2 separate regions of the Homo sapiens genome follow, and region 1 is linked to region 2. Evidence: fine-mapped expression QTL. A gene starts in region 2. The other region holds a variant in brackets. All regions are shown on one strand. Distances are from middle to middle.

The links. PIP is the estimated chance that this variant, and not a neighbour inherited with it, causes the effect.
Region 1: its variant is fine-mapped to the expression of RNF157-AS1 in whole blood (INTERVAL, PIP above 0.99).

Annotation. Positions count from the first base shown.
Region 1 is chr17:76,548,236-76,556,558 of GRCh38, forward strand. It overlaps a transcript of CYGB not described here and a transcript of PRCD not described here. Among named protein-coding and RNA genes, the nearest start is that of SNHG16, 5.4 kb to the right of the region's middle. The variant AT/A (reference allele first, on the strand shown) is at 4,647.
Region 2 is chr17:76,135,938-76,144,260 of GRCh38, forward strand. RNF157-AS1 (RNF157 antisense RNA 1) reads left to right here and starts at 4,619. Exons shown (of 8, transcript NR_040017.1): 1 at 4,619-4,743; 2 at 7,293-7,411. It overlaps FOXJ1 (forkhead box J1), which reads right to left and starts at 5,308. Exons shown (of 3, transcript NM_001454.4): 1 at 5,177-5,308; 2 at 3,961-4,627; 3 at 396-2,183. The coding sequence starts at 4,458. The coding sequence ends at 1,416. RNF157 (ring finger protein 157) reads right to left here. Exons shown (of 19, transcript NM_052916.3): 19 at 6,537-8,323. RefSeq lists enhancers at 1,091-1,752, 1,753-2,412, 3,075-3,734 and silencers at 4,146-4,335, 4,396-4,465, 5,144-5,303.

The DNA.
Region 1 (8,323 bases), 410 kb after region 2:
ACACATACACACAGTCACACACACAGATACACATAAACATACATACACACAGAGAGACATACACATACACAAATACACACAGTATCATATGCAGAGGCAGAAGCCATTTGAACTAAGCATTAAAATAAATTAATGTGTTCATTTGGTCATTTATTTAACAAGCGTGTCCTGGGAACCTGCAATGTACAAACCCTGTATCAGGTGTCAGGAGTGACACTCGAGGAGAGACAGACCCTGCCCTGCTGGTTGGTCCTATAGGAAGGCCCCAGCCTCGGTGGCCTAGTTCTGCCAGCCCAACCCTGCCTGTCCCTGTGACCTTTAGTTCTCTGGACCTCGGTTTCCTCATTTGATAAACATTTGTCAAGCCCAGGTGGGCTGGAGTGAGGACGCAGAGGACTAATGATCTCCTCAGGAAAAGAACAGTTTAGTAAAATGAAGGGGATGGACCAGAAGCTCTCTGGGGGCCCCACCGACTTTCCCAATCGAAAGCAACTGTAATGAACTGTGTCTGGAGTGCTGTGTGCCAGGCACTGTGGATCCAGAAACGGATTAAGACCTTCTGCCACAAACAACCAGAAAACTGGGCAAGATATAAGCAGCAGACACTTGACAACAGGCAGCACACAGGACAGTGACCCCATGACTGCCTCAGCTTCTGCCTGGAGACAGTTCCCTGACTGTGCCTTGGGGAGGGGAAACCCAAGCGGACCACAGTGGCTTTGCTAAGGTGAGGAGGAGACAGAATCAGAGGTCAAGACAGTGTGAGATTCATAAGGATATACACACAGATCAATGGAATCCAAAAACAGATGCAGAAAGGCAATCCAATGGAGAAAGAAAGGTCCTTTCAACAGGATACAAAAAGCACTAACCAGAAAAGAAAAATCAATACACTGGACTTTATCAAAATTAAACCTCTGCTCTTGGAAAGACTAGGAGTAAATATTTGCCAAACAAAAATCTGAGAAAGGACTTGTATCCGGAATACATAAAGAACTTTTACAATTCGATAATAAGATGGCCCAATAAAAAAGTGGGGAAAGATTTTAATAGACACTACAACAAAAAATAAACATACAGCTAAAATACATAGAAAGTTGTTCGACATGCGGCTGGGCGCGGTGGCTCACGCCTGTAATACCAGCACTTTGGGAAAGAAGAAAGATACTCCACATGCAAATCAAAAGCCCAATGACATACCACTACATGCCTACCAGAGTGGTTACAGCTGAAGGCCGACCATAGTAAGTACTGTCCAAGATGTCACCCTGTCATACACGGCTGGGGACTGGTGAAGTGTTACAACCACTTGGGAAACCAGCATGGTGGTTCCTTATAAAGTTATCCCAGAGGAATGAAAACTTACATCCACAAAAAAGACTGCAAAGATGTTCATGGCAGCTTTATTACTAACAGCTCCAAACTGGAAACAACCCAAATATTCCTCGACGTGGGAACAGATAAACACACTGAGATATATAAAGATAGAATAATACTCAGCAATGAAAAGGAAATGAACTGCTGATGCCGACGACATGGGTAAATTGAGAGAAGCCAGACACAAAAGAGCCCCTACTGTGTGATGATGACATGTACACGGAATTCTAGAACAGGCAGAACCGACTGATAGTGACAGAAGGCATCAGTGGTTGACTGGGGCCGGGGTTAGATATTGTGGGGGTTGACTGCAAGGGTAAGAAGGTTTTTGTTTTTTTGTTTGTTTTTTTTTCTTTTTTTTGAGATGGAGTCTCACTTTGTCACCCAGGCTGGAGTGCAGTGGCATGATCTTGGCTCACTGCAACCTCCACCTCCTGAGTTCAAGCAATTCTCCTGCCTCAGCCTCCTGAGTAGTAGGGACTACCAGCTTACACTACCACGCCCAGCTGATGTTTGTATTTTTAGTAGAGACGGGGTTTCATCATATTGGCCAGGCTGGTCTTGAACTCCTGACCTCAAGTGATCCACCCGCCTCGGCCTCCCAAAGTGGTGGGATTACAGGTGTGAGCCACCGTGCCCAGCCTAGAAGGTTCTTTTTTTTTTTTTGAGATGGAGTTTTGCTCTCATCACCTAGGCTGGAGTGCAATGGTGCGATCTCGGCTCATTGCAACCTCGCCTCCCAGGTTCAAGTGATTCTCCTGCCTCAGCCTCCTGAGTAGCTGGGATTACAGATGCCCACCACCACGCCCAGCTAATTTTTTGTATTTTTAGTAGAGACGGGGTTTCGCCACGTTGGCCAGGCTGGTCTCAAACTCCTGACCTCAGGTGATCCACCGGCCTCAGCCTCCCAAAGTGCTGGGATTACAGGCATGAGCCACCGCACCCGCCTAAGAAGGTGCTTTTGAGGTGACAACAGTGTTCTAAATCTTAACTGGGATTGTGGTTACATGGGTCTATACACTTATTGGACTACTGAACCATACATTGTAAATGGTTATACTGTATTGTATGTAAGTTACACGAGAATAAAGATGATTTAGAGAGTTAGAAACAAAACAAGAATGAAGAATGATGCTTGTTTTGCTCACCATCTAGCAGAAAAGCCAGACATACAAATAATCATCAAACAGTGGGATGAGTGTTCAAAGTATGTTGAAATAACACGAACTCCCATTTATCAAGTGCTTACCTTGCGCCAGGCGCTGTGCTAAGTGCCCCGAAGCACTGATTTAACGAAGTCCCGTGATGTTTGGATGATCCTCCTCCTCCTCCTCATTTTACAGATGAGAAAATAAGACTCAGAGAGAAGTGAGGTGACCTTTGCCAAGGTTACTCAGCTAGAATCAGCAGAGCTGGGACTTTCCTCCAAGTCCTCCTGGGTTGCAGACAATGTGCTAATCCACCTGCCACCAGGAAGGTGCCACGATGAAACAGCTCGGGAATTGTTGCAGCGTCTCAGTCAAAACTTCGCAGGAAGTATTTAAGTACAAGCTGGAATTTGCAGAGCAGAGAAGAGAATGCAGTGAAGGGACTTTCAAGGCAACAGGAACAAACACCACCACAAGCAAAGGTTATGCAACAGCTGTGAGAAGGCAAGGGTTTCTGGGCATGGAGAGACATGCCCAGGAAATAACAGAAGAGATCCATGGAGCATTATATCGTCTTCAAATTCATTTATTTTTATTTTTAAAAAATCAATTTTTGAGTAATACTCTAGAGGCAGTGGCTCTGCCAAGCAGGGAAGTCAAATGCATCGCTTTTTTTCCTGTACACTGTTGGCAAGCACAGATAATCCACAACTCCAACGCCATCTATTCTCAATGCGTAGGGTCTGTGTTATATTTCTCCTCTTCCAGAAAGTTAAAGCTCGGTGAAACTTAAAGCAGTGATCCCAGGTTTTTAAATTTTTATATTTTTACTTTTCTTCCATCTGCCTGGTCATCTGCATGATCCCAGCTTTCTGAACAGGATTTGTGACACTGTTTCACGGTCCTAAGAACTCTCAGGAAAAAATCCTCTATATTTTCATGACAGGTTTTCTAGGTGGGTGAATTAAAGTCTCTGGAGTTAAGCAAAAACGGTCCACTGTCATAGCGTAATTTTTTTAGGAAACATGGCATGGTGGCTGAGACCATGGGTTTTTAGGCTGGATTGTTTGAGTTCAGATCGCAGTGCCTTCACTTATGAGTTCCTTTAACCTTTCTGCACCTTGACTTCCTCAGCTGTGAAATGGGAAGGTGGGGGGGTGGGGGATAATGACAGGGCTGTCATGAGAATCAGATGAGACAGTGAATAAAAGGTGCTTCCAGAGTACCTGCCACAGAGTAAACACTTCATATACACATAGCTGTTATGATTTCCGGAAGGAGGCTTGCACACATGAGCTCATTTTCTGTATTCTGCCATGATCCATTCTTCTGGGAAGAATTATTTTTAAAAGATATCATTTAGGATGATTTGACTGAAACAGAACACCCAACTTAAAATGACTTAATAAGATTTCTTTTTAAAATCTCACTTTTTATTTATTTATTTTTTTTGAGATGGAGTCTCGCTCTGTCGCCCAGGCTGGAGTGCAGTGGTACGATCTCCACTCACTGCAAGCTCTGCCTCCCGGGTTCAAGCCATTCTCCTGCCTCAGCCTCCTGAGTAGCTGGGACTACAGGCACCCGCCACCACGCCTGGCTAATTTTTTTTTTTGTATTTTTAGTAGAGATGGGGTTTCACTGTGTTAGCCAGGATGGTCTCAATCTCCTGACCTCGTGATCCACCCTCCTCGGCCTCCCAAAGTGCTGGGATTACAGGCGTGAGCCACTGCACCCAGCCTAAAATCTCACATTTTGTAATTCACTCAAACTGAGATGCCATTGCTTGTAAGACACATCCTGCATTTTAGAATATGAAAATGCGACCAGCTGTGATGGCTCATGCTTGTGATTCCAGCACTTTGGGAGGCTGAAGTGGGTGGGTTACCTGAGGTCAGGAGTTCGAGACCAGCCTGGCCAGAATGGTGAAACTCTGTCTCTACCAAAAATACAAAAATTAGCTGGGTGTGATGGTGCACACCTGTAATCCCAGCTACTTGGGAGGCTGAGGCAGGAGAATCACATGAATCCAGGAGGTAGAGGTTGCAGTGAGCTGAGATCATGCCACTGCATTCCAGCCTGGGCGACAAGAGCAAAGCTCTGTCTCAAAAAAAAAAAAAAAAA[AT/A]ATATATATATATATAAAAATATATATATATAAAACATGTATATGTGTATATATATGTATACATGTATACATATATATGTGTGTGTATATATATATGAAATGTATAAATGTGTCTCTGAATCAAAACGAGGTCTGAAGTTCAGGGGTGTTGGGACTGGCGGTTTCTGCGGGTCAGCAGCATCACTGAGGACTCATGTTCTTTCTTCTCTCTACTCTGCCATCGCAGTCCTTCAGCTCCTACTTAATGGAAGCCTCGCAGATGCAAGATGGCTCCAGCAGGCCCAGCATCACTTCTTCTCAGTGTCCCAAAGCCAGAAGAGAGGCTGTTGTTTTTAAAAGCAGGAAAACTTTCCTAAACTTGGCCAGAATTGCATCACAGACCCTTTCCTAAAACAATTTCCAGCAAAGGGAATAGACTTACCATGTCTGGTACAGATGAATCAAGGTTTGCCCCTGGGGGCTGGGGAGGGGCTTGTCCCGCTGAAGCAGACTCTTGCCCAGCAGCTGAACGAAGCCTAGGTTCACCAGACGGAGGAAGAGACTGGCCACTAACAGTGCCTGACACACAGATGTGCTTCCTGTGATATCGCTGCTGCCACCGTTCCAAATGTAAGCAGTTGGCTGTCTGGGATACTACCTACCTTCTTTTGTGTTCTTATTAATAAAATTAAAGATTGCTTTCTGGGTAGAGAAATTAACCTCAATATTCTAAAGACTGTTTTATTTTTATGTATTTATTTTTTTGAGACAAGGTCTTGCTCTGTCATCCAGGCTGGAGGGCAGTGATGAAGTCATGGCTCACTGCACAGCCTCAATCTCACGGGCCCCAGCAATCCTCCCACCTCAGCCTCCCATCCAGCTGGGACCACAGGCATGTGCCACCACACCTGGCTGTTTCTCATTTTTTATTGGTAGAGACGGGGGTCTCCCTATGTTGCTCAGGCTGGTCTTGAACTCCTGGGCTCAAGTGATCCTCCTGCCTTGGCCAACCAAAGTGTTGGGATTATAGGCATGAGCCACTGCGACCAGCCCAAAGACTGTTTTCTATTACTGTGGGTTTCAGATACCATGTCTTAAACGCTGTCAGTGACCACCCCAATACAGCAGGCCAGCTGACTGGATTTTCCCTTTGTACTCAGAGCCTGGGTCCCTGAAAAGCGCTGGGGACTTTTGCTTTCCTGTTTGTAAAGAGTCACTAGACTGTGACTCTTTCCATGTCAATAAATAGAGGTCTGCACTAGCCTGGTATAAAGGCTGTATAATAATTCCACGGTAGGTAAAACTCAAATGTCCTAGCTCTCACCAGCAATGAGTGCAAATGAGATCACAGTAACATCCACATTTCAGTCTCAACAGCTCTGAGCCCTTGCCGGCTCATTCAGGAATTCTGATGCATTCTCTGAAGTCCCCCTAGTTATTTCTGGGTTGGCTGCACAGTGTACTTTACATGTGCTCGGCACAAGGCCTCTCATTGTATTTCGCTCCAGCCTCTTGGCCACTGCCCAGCTGCCCTGGCATCCCCATCTGCCATGAACCTGCTGTTGGGGAAGCGATGTCCAGTCAGGTGTGAAAGCAACTTGGTGGCCTGCGGCAGAGTGAAGAGCTGTAAAGAATGGCCCTCACTATACACTGGGTGGCATCCAGGCCCAATACAGCCCTGCTAGAGCCCAGAGCCTCCATCTTCCACACATCAGCTCTGCAGCCTCCCATCCTCACTCTTCCTGCCACGAAGTGGCTCAAATGGCAGAGCAGGTGCCCATTGTTCCCCCTTTCAACCTCATTTCTGATTTTGTCCCCAACCACCCCTACAAACACATGAAAATCTTCTTCCTTCTCCCTTCCTCCCCGAAAACAAAAGTCCTTATACATAAGGTCACCTTATTCATTAGCGGTAAAAGCATGGATTCTACAGGCTGGGAGCAAACCCTGACCCTGCCAGTTACTGGTTATGTGAATTTGGGCAAGTTACCGAATTTCCCAGTGCTTCTGTTTCCTTATCCGTAAAATGGGGACAGTGATAGTGTTACCGGAGAGGAGTCCTGATCCAGACCCCAAAAGAGGGTTCTTGGATCTTGAGCAAGAAGGAATTTGGGATGTCTATAGACTAAAGTGAAAGCAAGTTTATTAGAAAAGTAAAGGAATAAAAGAATGGCTACTTGGCCAGGCATGGTGGCTCAAGCCTATAATCCTAGCACTTTGGGAGGCTGAGGCAGGCAGATCACTTGAGGTCAGGAGTTCGAGACCAGCCTGGCCAACATGGTGAAACCCTGTTGCTACTAAAAATACAAAAATTAGCCGGGCGTGGTGGCGTGCGCCTGTAATCCAGCTACTCGGGAGGCTGAAGCAGGAGAATTGCTTGAACCCAGGAGGTGGAGGCTGCAGTGAGCCGAGACAGCAGCACCACTGCAGCCTGGGTGACAGAGCGAGACTCTGTCTCAAAAAAAAAAAAAAAAAAAAGGCTACTCCACAGAGCAGCCCTGAGGGCTGCTGGTTGCCCATTTTTATGGTTATTTCTTGATTATATCCTAAACAAGGGGTGGATTATTTACGCCTCCCATTTTTAGACCACATAGGGTAACTTCCTGATGTTGCCATGGCATTTGTAAACTGTCATGGCGCTGGTGGGAGTGTAGCAGTGAGGACGACCAGAGGTCACTCTCATCGCCATCTTGGTTTTGGTTTTGGTGGGCTTATTTACTGCAAACTGTTTTATCAGCAAGGTCTTTATGGCCTGTATCTTGTGCCGACCTCCTGTCTCATCCTGTGACTTAGAATGCCTTAACCGTCCGGGAATGCAGCCCAGTAGGTTTCAGCCTCGTTTCACCCAGCTCCTATTCAAGATGGAGTTTTCTGGTTCCAATGCCTCTGACAGTAGTACTTCATCGCATTGTGAGGATTAAACGAGTTCATACATGTACAGAAACCAGTATAGGGAATGGCACCTGGTAAGTGCTATGAAGTATTAGCTATCATTACTATCTTGTCTACAGTAGGTCACCAGCCCGCTAGCAGCTTTTGGGAAATTCCACACTTAGAATTCCCACTGTAAGTCTCAAATGAAAGGAACTATGTTTGCAGGGATAGAACACATTCTTCCTTTCAGTATTACACAAAATAACGTGTCTTCAAGGGTAAGGTAGAGAAACCTAATGGCCAGAATTACTGCTGAATGAATTAATGATTATTTGCTGAAGACTTACTGTGAGCATAGCAGGTAAATACCAAACCCTGCACTGTTAAGAAATTAAAAAGAAAAAAATAAAAATAAAAAGAGGCTGGGCGTGGTGGCTCACGCCTGTAATCCCAGCACTTTGGGAGGCTGAGACGGGTGGATCACCTGAGGTCAGGAGTTTGAGAACAGCCTAACATGGAGAAACCCCATCTCTACTAAAAATACAAAATTAGCTGGGCGTGGTGGCGCATGCCTGTAATCCCAGCTACTCAGGAGGCTGAGGCAGGAGAATCACTTGAGCTTGGGAGGCGGAGGTTGCCGTGAGCCGAGATCGTGCCATTGCATTCCAGCCTGGGCAACAAGAGCAAAAGTCCATCTCAAAAAAAAAAAAAAAAAAAAATAATAATAATAATAAAAAGAGACTTCTGCTCTTGAAGAGCTTACAATCAAATGAAAGGAGGTAAACATAAGCAAATGTGGTAATTTGAAGATAAGTATCTGCAA
Region 2 (8,323 bases):
ACTGGGGCAGGCGGGCCCGGGCAGGCCCTCGCAGTAGGGGACAGCAGGGGCCGAGCCCAGGGCACACTTAGCCTTTGAGATTCCCTGGGTCTGGGGACTGAGGCCACTCCTCCTCCCTTTGTCTCCTGATCCCCCAGGGCTGTGGACCCCAGTCTCCCCATTGCACAGATGGAGGCACTGAGGCCTAGGCTGCAGGGGACAACCGAGAGCCACCCCTCAGCCCCTTCCTCCCCGGGGATGCTGAGGTCATGGGGAGTTGGTTAGTGCTCTTTGCAGGCCGTAAGTGCCCCCGCATCTTCCTCTCAGCCATCCCTCCCTCCAGCAAAGAGAAGCGCTGCCTCTCCAGAACACTGAGCCCTCACCTGTTCCCAAAGAAAGTTTTGAGCAGGTCCATATTTAGATTTTTAAAAATTTTATTTTTAAAAACTTTTCATTGTAAATAACTTTCATGAAAAAGGTTAAATTGCCCCACGGGGCAGGAGGGTGGATGTGGGACGCAGCCCAGGGAGTCCGGGTGGAGCAAGGCACGCCCCACGCCCCCGAGGAGTGCAGGCAGGGGCGTGGGGTACCCCGCTTCTTGGTCCCAGTAGTTCCAGCAAGCTCGGCATCCCTCCCAGTTAAGCCTCAGCTACAGCTACACTCACTACATTAGTCTGTCTGTCCTGCCCCATACAGCTTGGCTGCCCCGGCCCCCAAACCACCAAACCCAAACTTCCAGCTGCTCTCAGCCTCAAGTCGGGCTTAAAGATTAGGGATTTACGTCCCCTCCCCGCCCCCTAGGGATGGGGCCAGGCAAAGACCCCAGAGGCCTTAGAGAGGATCTCCTTGCCCCACCCTGTGCCACCACCTCATTTTGGTCTCCTCTCTCTGCCCCCTCCCCCAGTCCATCTTCTGCCCTGCTCCGCCCCATCCACAGCCTGCCCCGGCCCCAGGGAGGCTCTGCCAGGAGAAGCCTCCAGGGGGTTAATTTGCTGTCATCTAATTAGCATTTGTTGTACCTGGGGACTCTCTCTGGATAGAGACCTGGGGAAGCAGGGGGGAAGCGGAGGTGCTCTGGGAGGGCCCAGTTCTGTTCCTCCCCAGCCTGACCCGGGCTCCTCCAGGCCTCGGCTCTCATGGTGCAGGGTCCTTTAGCCGGTTTCTGGGGCTGGGAAGACGCGGAGCAATGAAACACTGTGTGTACAAGGTGGGGCTGGGGAGAGGAGGCAGCGATTCTGGTCCTGGGCCCTCGTTTTCAGCCTCCTGGGCTTGAATCTGATGGCAGCTGGGGCTGGTGGCCATGTGGCCTCTGGGGCAAGCCTTGGAGCCCTGGCCCAGCCCCTGCCTAGGTGGTGGGGTGTCTGTGGACCTGTGTTGGGGGGCAGTTCTGGACCCTGACTTGGGCACTGTCCAGAGGTGGGGCAGGGCCTGGCCTCTTACAAGAAGGCCCCCACGCTGGCCCAGTCCTGCAGGTCGGAGGCCAGGGTGGCATCCCCAGCCTCAAAGAGGGGCTCCGGGGGCAGGCAGCCACTGCCGCTCTCGTCCCAGGGGTGCTGCAGGAAGGATGTGGCCAGGAAGGTCTCATCGAAGTCCAGGCTGTCGGCAGCCTGCTCCACCGAAGGCCCCCAGGTGGCAGGGCAGTCGATGTGGCGGCCGTGGATGGTGAGGTCCACGTCCACGTGTGAGGCGGGGCTCAGAGGCGGGCTCAGCTCCAGGGCCTCCAGTGCACCCAGCTCCCCGCCCAGAGTGCCGGCGTCGAAGATGGCCTCCCAGTCAAAGTTGCCTTTGAGGGGTTCCAGCTCACCCTGCTCCTCCGGGGTGGGCAGCAGGGTGCTGGGGGGCCGCGGGACCTTGGCCACCCGCTTGGGCAGCGGCTGTTTGCGCTTATGCCCCAGCCTGCCCTCGCCTGCACCCCAGCCCGCCTCCCCGGTGGCCTCCTCGAACTCCCGCAGCAGCTGCTGGGCCTCGGTATTCACCGTCAGCGGCCCGGCCCGGGGGACAGCGCTGGGCTCCTGCGCGGCCTGGCGGGCAAAGGCTGGGTGGATGTGGACAGGGGGCAGTCGCCGCTTCTTGAAAGCGCCGCTCAGTAGCCGCTCCGCGTACTGGGGGTCAATGCGCCAGAAGCCCCCCTTGCCTGGTTCGTCCTTCTCCCGAGGCACTTTGATGAAGCACTTGTTCAGAGACAGGTTGTGGCGGATTGAATTCTGGGTGCAGGGAGAGAGCAAGAGAGAGAGGAACCGCTAGGTCAGTGGGGACGGGGAGATGAAATGGCACCTGGCGCTGCTGCGCACCCCCCATCTTTTCTCTGGCAGGGGAGAGGAGGGGGGGACAGACACACTGGTCTGCCCAGGCGGCTGCAGCTCTGGGACACCAGCCACAGGGCACTGGGAGCCCGGAGTGCTGTCGGAGGCTTTTGTTCCCTGTTGCCGGGATATCTGCCTGCTCAGTCATCCGAGCTCTGAGCCGCAGGGTGGCTCTCGGTGCCACCCCCGTCGCCTGCCCTCCCTCCCTCACCCTGCCGCTGACAGCCTCTGGCCAAAGCCCTCGGCTCCCCCAGGGCCTGGACCACCGTCTCCCTTTGCCTGGGCCTGGCTGGCCCTCTCTGTGAGTGAGTGGGTCCAGGGAGGGGGCTGGGCAGCCGAGAGTGGAGAGGAAGGGGGAGAGAGAGAGAGAGCGCGCAGGGATGAGAGGTGGGGGATCTGATGACTTTCCTTGTTTGTTGAGCCGGCTGCTGGCCTGGGCCTTCACCCCCCACGGCCCCCTCCCCCCACTCCAGGCTCAGTTGATTATTACCCAGCCAAGAGCTAAGAGCATAGCACTCATTCCTGGGGCCCGTTTCTCGAAGCGCAGCTGCACAGGCTTAGGGTAGGGTGGGGCTGAGGGTCTCTGCTTTTTCGGTGCAGCTGCAAATGACCCTGCTCTAGGGTCAGGGGCATTGGAAATGGCTTGGGACTGCGGTCCTGTGGCCTGCCCGCTTTGGGTGCTTCAGGGAAGAGTCTGGGCGTCCTTGGGGGGCCCCTGACTCCAACTAGCCCTTGATGGTGATGGCTGAAGACTCTTAGGGCACTGCCTACCCAGCCTCAAATCCACCATCCTCCTGCCTTGTCCATTCTTAGGTGCTTAATCTTGTCCAAAGCCTGCTGGGGGACAGGGGTCCTGGGCTGGGACGGCAGGGCAGGTGGGTGGATAATGCCCGGCAGCAAGGCTGGGATGTTTACATGGTGGCCTGGGCCCCTTGGCTGCTCAGTGCCTGGTTCCAGAGACGTGGAACACGAAGTGAGTGTGGTAGGCAGAGCCCCAGTGGAAGGCACCTGGCTCAGGTAATTGTCCCCCCAGGGAGGTTGGCTGACAGCGGGGGTTGGAGGCAGGAAACTGAGCAGAGGTTGAGGTGGGGGGCTGGGACAGCAGCTTTAGGAAGGCCCCTTACCCCCTCCACCCTCCATTGGGACACACCTGGCCCTCACATGCTAAGGCACCCCTTCCATTCCACCCTCCCCAAGCCAACTGCAAAAGGGCAGGACGTAGAGCCTGGCAGGGAGGCCACGTTCCAGTTTCCGTTTCTGACTCCCGGCCCCGACAAACCATCCCGGGGCAGGGCAGTGTCTAGGAATTCTAGGACTTGGGACAAGAATGCGCCTTCAGTTCATCGCTCTCCCCAAGGAGATTCTGTCCACGCAGAGTCTAGCCCTGGTCTTTGGCCTGGGCCTGCTGGATGAATGGCAGGTTATTTCCCCTTGAATCTCAGCCTCTGCACCCCTAAAGCCCTCCACCTCTGGACATTCTCCCTTCTCTCTCTCTCTCTCTCTGGAAGTCAAAGGAGGGGCAGTTGCAAGAACTGGGCTCCTTTGCAGGGCTCCCTTCTGGGGCGCTGGCCGCACCGCAGAGCCTACTTGGCCTGCAGATTTGGGATATGAATCCAGTGCAGCGTGGGGAGCGAGGAGGGAATGGGGAGGGAGCGGCCGCCGCCCGTGCCTCCTCTACCTGCCAGGTGGGATCTGCGTGGCGGAAGTAGCAGAAGTTGTCCGTGATCCACTTGTAGATGGCCGACAGGGTGATCTTGGTGGCCTTGCTGGCCTGCATGGCCATGCAGATGAGCGTGGCATACGAGTAGGGAGGCTTCACGTGCGGATTGGTGGCGTAGTCCACGTCGTCGGGGGGTGGGGCCTGCAGCCCCGGGGGCGCGCTCCGCGACGTGCACGACGACGTGGGCTTGCCCGGCGTGTGTGGCTGCCCCAGGCAGGCGGGGTCGGCCGCCAGGGGGGACCCGGGCGCCGCTGAACCTGGCACCTGGTGGTAGCCGTGGGGGTCGGTGCCCCCCGGGGGCAGGGCGGGGGCCTTGGCGTTGAGAATGGAGAATTCCTGCAGCCACTGCAGGCTGGTCAGGCTGTCATCCAGGGCGTCGGGCTCCTCCAGGCCGCCCTCCGGCCCGGCCTCCTCCGCCGGCCCGGCTCCCGAGAGGCGCAGCCAGCTCTCCGCCATGTCTGCGGGGACTCTCCGAGGGGGCGGTCAGCATCCACGGGCTGAGCCGGGGGTGGCCCGCCGCGCTCTCTGGCCCGCTGAGTCCCGCAGCTCCCGTTACACGGCCTCCCGGACGCGCGCTTCCATCTCGCGACCCCGGGGGCGCCTCCTCCGAATAAGTATGTGGTGCCTGCGAGGACCACGGTGGGAGCTGAGCACTACCCCACCCCCGAGGGGACAGTGTGTGTACGGGGACGCCCTCTCTAACATCATCCCCGCAGCTGGGGAGGATCTTTTAGTGCCGAGGTATGGGAAACAGAAGCAAGGCCCTGGGGTCCCACCCCCATCAGATCTGCCTCCCTCTTCCTTTCCTCTTCGAGGTTTTATTAGCCAAATGAAGAGGGTAGGGGCATCCGAGGCTATCCTTTTCTCCCGAAGAGCAGGAAATCAGGACCCCCTTCCTCCTCGCAACAAATGGAAGTGGGGCGAGAAGTTTGGGAGGGCGGTACGACGGGGCGGGGGCGGTGGAGGTCCTCTGATCCTTGAAAAGGAATATTATGATAGGGGATCATTGGGAAGGAAGGGGACGGAACAGTAACGGGGGGCAGGAGGCGAGTTTCCCCCAGACTTCTCCGATGTCAGTCCCTGGGCCCACCACTTCCGTTAAGGACGAATGAGAGAGCGGGTTGGTACCGTTGCCCACCCTTCCCCCTGGCCTGCAGCCCTCCCCATCCCTTACCTGGCTCAGAGCGCAGCCCGGGCCAGAGGAAGGTTCTGGAAGAAGTTGCTCCCACCCCCTGCGGCTCTCTGCCCCCAGCTCGGGGGCCCTGCCAGCGCCTCTTGCCGCCCCCCCGCCCGACGGCGCTTCTCTGAGCTACCGCGGCCCCGGGACCGGCATTAAGTAGCCGCTCCAAAGGCTTCTCCTGCTGCCATGGCGACGCTCCGCCCCCATAAACAGCTTCCGCCTCTGCCATTGGCCAGCACGTCTCCAAGGAGACCGCGGGCACTTGCCACTCTCCCTGGCGGCAACTCTCTTCGAACTCCCTCCTTCTGCCGCCCTCTCCCGCGCCACCCAACCCCCTACCCGCCGCTAAGTCCCGGCTCGGCTCATTCCCGCCCGAGGGCCCCGCGCTGGGGTCGGAGAAGCGCGCGGCCTGCGGCACCGGGAACCGCTATGGATCCGTTCGTTCTGGGGAACCAAGACTCTCGCCCCCACCCCCTTCCTGTCCCGTACGCTTTGAGGCGTCGACTGCTCCTGGGACGGAGCCTGGGGTTGGGGGGCTAAGGCTGGGAGCGGGCTCAGGCTCGGGAACCGTATCCTTGAGGTTTTCTTTCCTCTCCGCTACGAGTGGCACTTTCTCATGTTTCTGCAGCCTTTCCCTCTCCCCCGACTCTTAGGGTCTTTCTCTGGTGTCCCAGGCAGGTCTGACTTTCCGATGCCACCTGCCGCTTACATCCACAGAGGCGGCAGACACACCAAGGGGGTAGGGTAATCCAGTGTGTCCCAGTAAGCAGCTCCTTCCCCACCCGTATCCTCGAGGTTCCAGGAAGCTGACATTCCAGAGGCTTCTGCAGAAGCGCACTCACTCCTCTGGAGACAGCTGATGAAGCAGAGCCCGTGGGTAAAACTCTGAAGTCATGGACTTGTCAAATTCTCCTAGCGGGGTCATTTGCCCAATTAATTTCACCAACCTTTAAGTCACAGGGATTAAGAGTAGAGGGACTCTGGGGACTGTGTCCCTTCCTCCTCCCTTCCCCTGGCCTCCCTCCTGTCACCAGCTTTCCTGCTCTTTAATTATTGAGGAGCTGCAGGGTTGGACGTTCTCCGGTTTAAGGCGGCTGCAGAGGCAGTGGTGGGGGCTGGGTTGATTACCCCGCCTCTGCCCAGGAGCTGGAGAGCCGGGGTCGGGGAGGCTGGTGCCCAGACCATGAAGAAGGCCCGGCTATGGCGCATCACTCCCCCGCCAACATGCCTTTCCCTAGCCCTTGCCTCTCCCACTCCTCCAACTCCAGATCCTCTTGAGTAAAAGTATTAAAGAGTGCTGGCGAAAGTCAGACAGAAACTTTCACAGATAAGCTCACTTTGCAGTTAGCTCTCCTTCCCTTGTAAACAGTTTTATTCATTTTTAAGAATCATGCAGCAATCCATAAATATTGCATTCTTGATGTCCCCACTGTAGTGTGACCACAAGTGTACTCCAGGGAGAGGGGTACACAGATGGCACAAGCAGTATACACATGCACACACCAGGTGTGCAGACCAAAGCAAAGTGAGCGACCAGCGTGCTAAACTCCAGGTGGGCAGGACCCCAACTCCCAGGTGAGGTGGGCAGGACCCTAACTCCCAGGCCAGCCGGCTTAGAGTGTGGTGGTCTGTGCCCAGGAGATGCCTCAGCGGGGGTAGAAACTCTGGTGGGATGGAGCTGGGCAGAAGGAAAAAAGGGCTCTGTGAGGAAGCCGGGATCACACCACCTGAAGGCAATAGGGAGAGCACAGGCCTAGTGCAGCAGGAAGGAGCCCTGGGTCTCCATAGTTAGGCTGTGCCCTGTGGGAGAAGCCAGGCCCCACCTCTTCTCTTTGGGTGAACTGTTGACGTGACTATGTGACTGTCTCCAGATGAAGGACTGGGGCAAAAGGGTTGGCCACTGACCTGTCCTCATCAGGCTGACTGAGGACCAGCTCCTTGGATGGAGTATTTCTGTGGGCCAGAGAGCTAAATGACAGCCAAGAGAAGGCAGGGGGAGGGAGGAAGAGGAGAAATAGTAACTGAGAAACAAGTAAAGGACATTTCTAACCTAGGTATGCCTTGGACATGGGACTGAGGCCTTGAGGAATCTTTCCGTGCTTCTCCCTAGGAGAGGACTAAGCACCTGCTGCGAGGAAGGACAGGGATCCTCAGGAAGGGGGTCCTGGCCACTGTGGCTACTGTTTACCTGAATCTCCTTCATCTCAGCTCCTTCCTCCCTCCTCCCAGGTAACACCACACTGTGAATACTACCTGCAGGGGACAGGACAGGAGGTGGTCTGTGTGCCACCACCCCAGGGTAAGGGAAGCTCCCTGTCACCTGCTGCTTCTGGGCTCATATTTCAGGGAAATCAGGAAGTGGGGTTATTGCTCAGCTTATGCATCTTAACTATGAAAGGGGCGGGAAGAATGTAGGGGGAAGGAAGGAAAGAACATTAGGTGGGGCCTGAAATGGTAAAGTCTACTGCAGTTTTTCAGAGAGGGTTGGACGACAGGCCCCCCTCTCCATCAGGGCAGGATGTGAGCCACAACCACTAGGCAGTGAGACAGTCACTGCACTCCTGGCCTCTGCAGCCACACAGAAACGAAGGACCCCCTGGGCACCAGGCTCTTTTTGAGGCTGCCTTGGAAACAGCCTTGAATTTTTTTTTTTTTGTTTGAGACAGAGTTTCGATCTTTTCAATCTTGTAGCCCAGGCTGGAGTGCAGTGGCACGATCTTGGCTCACCGCAACCTCCACCTCCTGAGTTCAAGCGATTCTCCTGCCTCAGCCTCCCGAGTAGCTGGGGAGGGCCCTTGAAGTGAAGGCCCTGAGCCCTGATTCCAACCTCTGCTCCCAGCACACTGCTGCTGGCCACATGCTGCTGCCTGAACTTAGCTCAAGGCTCTCCATCACTTCCTTTGGGGACCTGGGCACCAAACTGAGAATCACTGGTCCACATTTCTCTCAACCATTAACAAAAGGGGGTAGAGATGGGGGCAACAGGGACAAGAATGCCACCTCCCAATTGAGTGAGGATGAATTATGGTAATATACGACCACTCCTCACCCAGTGCTTGGCACACAGAGGTGGTCAACACATGTGTTTCTTGAAATGTCACCTTAGGATGGAGTTGCAGGCCTCCCTGAATGCACCTGATC